Homo sapiens: one gene and its partner. The protein of the gene in region 1 interacts with the protein of each later gene in a pairwise test. Each region holds a gene or a part of one and is shown in the gene's direction. Other genes may lie near its edges.

What was found.
Region 2: the proteins of FAAP20 (region 1) and NFKBID interact in binary tests that used the Homo sapiens proteins (3 or more experiments, as listed by UniProt).

Annotation. Positions count from the first base shown.
Region 1 is NC_000001.11:2,188,982-2,191,856, reverse strand, and holds the end of FAAP20 (Fanconi anemia core complex-associated protein 20), read left to right. Parts: exon of another isoform or gene 1-2,059; intron 2,060-2,075; coding exon 2,076-2,148; 3' UTR 2,149-2,309; downstream 2,310-2,875. UniProt on the Homo sapiens protein: Component of the Fanconi anemia (FA) complex required to recruit the FA complex to DNA interstrand cross-links (ICLs) and promote ICLs repair.
Region 2 is NC_000019.10:35,893,986-35,897,635, reverse strand, and holds part of NFKBID (NF-kappa-B inhibitor delta), read left to right. Parts: intron 1-532; coding exon of another isoform or gene 533-577; coding exon 578-723; intron 724-804; coding exon 805-910; intron 911-1,097; coding exon 1,098-1,244; intron 1,245-1,366; coding exon 1,367-1,418; intron 1,419-1,507; coding exon 1,508-1,656; intron 1,657-3,650. UniProt on the Homo sapiens protein: Regulates the expression of IL-2, IL-6, and other cytokines through regulation on NF-kappa-B activity. Functions in the regulation of inflammatory responses.

The DNA of each region.
Region 1 (2,875 bases):
TGGATGGGAAGCTGGGCACCTGGTGAGGGGTGAGGATGTTGAGAGCCAGAGCTGCGTTTTGTCTCTGTTGATGTGGCGAGGCCCTGGGTTGGTCACTGGGATTTTTTTTTTTTTTTGAGACGGTGTCTCGCTCTGTCGCCCAGGCTGGAGTGCAGTGGCATGATCTCGGCTCACTGCAACATCTGCCTCCCGGGTTCAAGCGATTCTCCTGCCTCAGTCTCCTGAGTAGCTGGGATTACAGGCGTCACCACACCTGGCTAATTTTTGTATTTTTAGTAGAGACAGGGTTTCACCATGTTGGTCAGGCTGGTCTTGAACTGATCTCAGGTGATCCGCCCGTCTCGGCCTCCCAAAGTGCTGGGATTACAGGCGTGAGCCACCGCGCCCGGCCGGTCGTTGGGATTTTAACAGCCCTGAGGCCCCTCACGCTGCCAGGTGCCAGCCCACCCTGCAGCCCTGCTCCCCTGCCCACACGCAGAAGCCACCAGAGGCTTCTGGACTGAGCCCCCACTGTCCTGCAGCCGGGCTGGCCTGTCCACACCACAGGGCGTGCTCAGCTACTGAGCAGAAGCGTCACGGACAGGGCAGATCAGGCCAGGACAAAGCTCTTCCGCCACAGGCGGGGGTCTGAAGGCATCTCAGAGGGCCCCCAAACAAGGGACGCTGCCTGGAAACCCCGGGACAAGATGACCTCGGTTCAGATCTTAGCACCTTCTGGCAACCTTAGAGAAAGCTTCTGGAGGGAGGGGCTGGTTCCCAGGATGGGCAGAAGCCGGAAAGTCTCAGACTGAGTGACCCTCGGGGGCTTCAGAAGGCACTGGGTGGGCTCTGCCAGAGTGAGAAGGCAGCTGATGGCTGCTGGAGCCAGCCCCGGGAGTGGGGGTCCAGCTATGGTCTGGAGAGGGGGACTTGAGGGTTGCAGTGGCCACACAGACGGGGCACAGGAGCCAAAGGAAGGGACACAGCAAAGCCCAAGGGTAAAACGGCGCGCCGTGGACTGGTCTGAGGGCAGAGGCTGTAGGGGAGCGAGGGGCGGTGTGGCTGACAGGTGGACACAGGGACACGTGTCCTGTGGACTTGGCCGCTCAGTGGGGGTGTGTCCCCCAGCAGTGGCGTGTGAGGGATGGTCACTCTGATGGGACACTGACCACTTGGCCTCCAGCAAGATCTAGGCCCAAGTCTAGGCTGAAGCCGCCCACTCAGCCCCGGGACATCGTCCCCGGCAGCTCTGCTGAGCACGCCAGCTCCGGCACTCTCCGGGAGTCATGGCCGGAAGTCAACTGTCCTGGCTTCCAGGGCCACACCTTGGCCAGGCCTGGTGATGGTCATTTCCAGCCGCTCCAGTTGGGCTGATGGGGCCACATGAGGCCGGGGATAGAAGGTGGCTGCGCTCAGACACCCCTCCCGGCCCCACTGGATGCCCAGGGCGCTGACCTGCAGGACTCGGATGGGTTTTCTCCTGCCACCCCTGCCTGGCCGGCCACCATCCCAGCGCCAGCGCCCTCCTGAGAGGTGCAGGGGCCGCGTGGGGCCTCCCAGAGTGGCAGGTTGGCAGCCTGCACGCCGGTGACGGCGTCCTTCTCCGTGGTGAGGCTTGGTCCCTCCTCGCCAGAAACACCAATTCTCTGACGTGAGCTGCACATCCACTGCCCAGCCATGTTTACTCTTCTGCCTCCTGTAGACGCAGCCGCGGCGGCTCTCCCTGGCAGGCCACCCGCCGTCCTGCCTTTTCTCCGGGTCAGGCCGCCTGTCTGCCGGGCTCCACGATGAGCGCGTTCTCAAGCTGAGCAGGCGCCAGAATCCCATAGAGAGGCTTGTTGAGACACAGCTTCCCCACCCCCAGCTCGGACGCAGGGGCCTGGCGTGGCCTCCTCACGGGCACGGTGTGGAAACACCACTGGCGGTTACCGTGGTCTGCCGGGTGCATGAGCCCCTGGGGTGGCCCCGTCCCTTGTTTCTGACCAGCCGGATCCTCTCCAGCGGCAGGAGCAGAGAGGGCCCGGAGGTCCAGACGGTGCTCTCTGCGGCCAGCATGCCGCGGAGGTGGCCGAGTGAGTGTGGCCCCTCCCTTGCAGGCTGACCCAGCTGGATGTTGACAGCCACCTGGCCCAGTGCTTGGCCGAAAGCACAGAAGACGTGACGTGGTGAGCGCCATCCAAGAGCCCTGCGCAGAGTGCGGCGCCCGGACACGCTCTCCCCCGCCAGCAGCCCCGCCTCTCGGCTCCCCCGCCAGCAGCCCCGCCTCTCGGCTCCCCCGCATGCGCATTAAAGCAGGGCGGGCTCCTGTCTGTCTCTGTGTTGTGATGAAACGTCTGCCGCTTTTCTTTCTGACGTTTGGTTTAGGGCAGATTCACTGCAGTGCAATCAGAACCAGACACAGCCCCAGGCGGGGAAGCTGACCCCTTTCCCCTGGCGCCCCCACTGTGGACAGCGGACGGGCTGAGGGTAGCTCGTTTTCCTAACTTTGTGGACAGGCGTGGTTAGCTCATGTGCAGTCACGGTTTTTTTTTTGTTTTTTTTTTTTTGAGACAGGGTCTCGCTCTGTCGCCCAGGCTGGAGTGCAGTGGTGCAATCACGGCTCATTGCAGCCTCAGACTCCTGGGCTTGATGATCCTCCCACCTCAGCCTCCTGAATAGCTGGGACTACAGGCGCGCGTCACCACACCCAGCGACTTTTAGTATTTTTTGTACAGATGGAGGGGTCTTGCCATGTTGCCCAGGCTGGTCTCGAACTCCTAGGCCCAAGCGATCCTCCCGCCTTGGCTTCCTGAAGTGCTGGGATTACAGGCGTGAGCCAGCAGCCCCAGCCTCTGGTGGCGTTCTTTTTGTTTTTTTTTTTTTTTTTCTTTTTTGAGACGGAGTCTCGCTCTGTCGC
Region 2 (3,650 bases), on another chromosome or scaffold:
GGTACAGGATGCTGAAGGGCCCCTAAAAATTCGCAGTTGCACTCCTGCAGTATTCTGAGATGTCTGGAGCTCAGTTACGATTCCCTTTTCCAGGCCGGGCGTGGTGGCTCACACCTGTAATCCCAGCACTTTGGGAGGCTGAGGCAGGCGGATCACTTGAGGTCAGGCGTTTGAGACCAGCTTGGCCAACATGGTGAAACCAAAAATAAAAAAATTAGCTGGGTGTAGTGGCGCACGCCTGTAATCCTAGCTACTCGGGAGGCTGAGGCAGGGGAATTGCTTGAACCCAGGAGGTAGAGATTGCAGTGAGTAGAGATTGCACTGCTGCACTCCAGCCTGGGTGACAGAGCAAGACTCTGTCACCGAAAAAAAAAAATACCCTTTTCCAGGTGGGCAAAACTGAGGCCTAAAGGTCCAAGGTCACTTGGCATAGATGGGATACCCAGGGGCTCTGCATGCAGATGTGTGTGTGGTGGCTTGGGATGGAGGAATTCTCAGCTGACTGGGTCTCCCCACCACCTGCACCCTCCAGGACCCCCCAGACACCCAGTTCTATGTAGGATCTTCTCTGCCACAGGCTGGACCCTGGAGAGTTTCTGCACCCCCTTCAGGACCCCCACAGTTCCCCGCTGTGGTCCCTGGACCATCGCTGGAGGTGGCCCGAGCTCACATGCTGGCTTTGGGGCCACAGCAGCTGCTGGCCCAGGATGAGGAGGGGGACACGTGAGTATAAGGGATAGGGTTGTCTGCAGACTCTTGGCTTGGTGGGGGCTGTTCTCACGGCTGTCCCCCACCTGTCCTCAGGCTCCTTCACCTGTTTGCGGCTCGGGGGCTGCGCTGGGCGGCATATGCTGCGGCTGAGGTGCTCCAGGTGTACCGGCGTCTTGACATTCGTGAGCATAAGGGCAAGGTGAGGCTTGGGGCCTGAACTCTCCTGGGTTCAGGGGAGGAAGGAGCCTGGGGCCTGGACCCCTGGATCCTAGAGAAGAGGGGAATGGGGGGTGAGCTCCTGGGGCTGAGGGGGGATGGGGCTGGGAGCCTGGTTTTCTGACGGGAGGGAACCAGGAGCCCAACCTGACTTCTCCTGTGGCCTGCAGACCCCTCTCCTGGTGGCGGCTGCTGCCAACCAGCCCCTGATTGTGGAGGATCTGTTGAACCTGGGAGCAGAGCCCAATGCCGCTGACCATCAGGGACGTTCGGTCTTGCACGTGGCCGCTACCTACGGGCTCCCAGGAGTTCTCTTGGTATGGCCAGCTGGCAGGCAGGGGTTTGTCTGGGGGGTAGACTGGTTGCCCAGATTTTGGCTTCCAGGGCCAGGAGGCCAGGGGATACCCTTACCCAGCAGTCTGCCTTCTCTTCCTCCCAGGCTGTGCTTAACTCTGGGGTCCAGGTTGACCTGGAAGCCAGAGACTTCGAGGGTAAGTTGGGTGTGGGCAGGGCTGGTGTGGTTGGTGTGGCTGGGCGAGGTGGGTGCAGATGCGGGTCCCTCACTGTCTCCATTCTGCAGGCCTCACCCCGCTCCACACGGCCATCCTGGCCCTTAACGTTGCTATGCGCCCTTCCGACCTCTGTCCCCGGGTGCTGAGCACACAGGCCCGAGACAGGCTGGATTGTGTCCACATGTTGCTGCAAATGGGTGCTAATCACACCAGCCAGGTGAGCGGGGATGTGGGCGGTCAGACCCTGGGAGATTGTGTGGAATGGGGCCACTTGGATGTCCGGGAGCTCCAGGCAAATGCTGACTTTGCCTCTTCCTTGCTGCGTGCCCTTGAACATGTTACTTCACTTCTCTGTGCCTTAGGGGTTTTTTGTTTGTTTCTTTGTTTGTTTTGAGATGGAGTTTTGCTCTTGTTGCCCTGGCTGGAGTGCAATGGTGTGATCTTGGCTCACCGCAACCTCTGCATCCCGGGTTCAAGTGATTCTCCTGCCTCAGCCTCCTGAGTAGCTGGGATTACAGGCATGAGTCACCACGCCTGGCTAATTTTTTTGTATTTTTAGTAGAGACAGGCTTTCTCCACATTGGTCTTGCTGGTCTCGAACTCCCGACCTCAGGTGATCCACCTGCCTTGGCCTCCCAAAGTGCTGTGATTACAGGCGTGAGCCACCGCGCCCAGCAGGGTTTTTTTGTTTGTTTGTTTTTTTGTTTTTGAGACAGGGTCTCACTCTGTCGCCCAGGCTAGAGTGCAGTGGTGCAATCTCATCTCATGGCAAACTCTGCCTCCCAGGTTCAAGTGATTCTCCTGTCTTAGCCTCCTGAGTAGCTGGGACTATAGGCGCACGCCACCATGCCTGGCTATTTTTTTTTTTTTTTTTTTGTATTTTAGTAGAAGTGGGCTTTCATTGTGTTGGCCAGGCTGGTCTCAAACTCCTGACCTCAAATGATCCTCCCACCTTGGCCTCCCAAAGTGCTGCGATTACAGGCGTGAGCCACTGTGCCTGGCCCCTAGTTGTTAACTGGGAATAATATTACTGACCTTAGGGTATGTTATCAAGCACTTACTATTCATTCATCAAGCACTGAGTTTCATAGATTAGCTTATTGAAACCTCACAAACACCCTTTGACATGTGTACTCTATTTTCTCTATTTTACTGAAAAGGAAACAGGCATGGGAAATCAAAAATCTTTTTTTTTTTCTTTTTGAGATGGAGTTTTGCTCTTGTTGCCCAGGCTGGAGTGCAATGGTGTGATCTCGGCTCACCACAACCTCCGCCTCCTGGGTTCAAGCGATTCTCCTGCCTCAGCCTCCCGAGTAACTGGGATTACAGGTTCCCACCACCACGTCCAGCTAATTTTGTATTTTTAGTAGAGACAGGGTTTCTCCATGTTGGTCAGGCTGGTCTCGAACTCCCGACCTCAGGTGATCTTCCTGCCTCGGCTTCCCAAAATGCTGGGATTGCAAGCGTGAGCCACTGCACCTGGCCTCAAAAATCTCTTTGAGACAGGGTCTCACTCTGTCACTCAGGCTGGAGTGCAGTGGCATGATCACAGCTTATTGCAGCCTTGACCTTGTGCACTTAAGTGATCCTCCCACCTCAGCCTCCCAAGTAGCTGTGATCACAGGCATGCACCACCATGCGTGGCAACTTTTTTGTAAGGTGGGGTCTAACTATGTTGGCCAGGTTGGTCTCAAACTCCTGAGCTCAAGCAATCCTTCCACCTCTGCCTCTGAAAGTGCTGGGATTACAGTTGTGAGCCACTGCACCCAGCCTGAAAAATCTTATAGCTTGTGACTGTCAGAGAGAGAATTAGAACCCAGGTAGTCTGACTTTAGAACCTAGCTTTTAATTATGTTCTGTTCCTTTCCTGTGACAGTAGCTCCTTCATAGGCTGGCTGAGAGAATTAAACATCCACAAAAAATGTTTATTTATTTATTGAGATGGAATCTCACTCTGTCACCCAGGCTGGAGTGCAGTGGCATGATCTCGGCTTACTGCAACCTCTGCCTCCCGGGTTCAAGCCATGCTCCTGCCTCAGCCTCCTGAGTAACTGGGACTACAGGCATGCACCACCACGCTTGGCTAATTTTTTTGTATTTTTAATGGAGACGGGGTTTCCCTATGTTGGCCAGGCTGTTCTCTCAAACTCCTGACCTCAGGTGAGCCGCCCGCCTTGGCCTCCCAAAGTGCTGGGATTACAGGCATAAGCC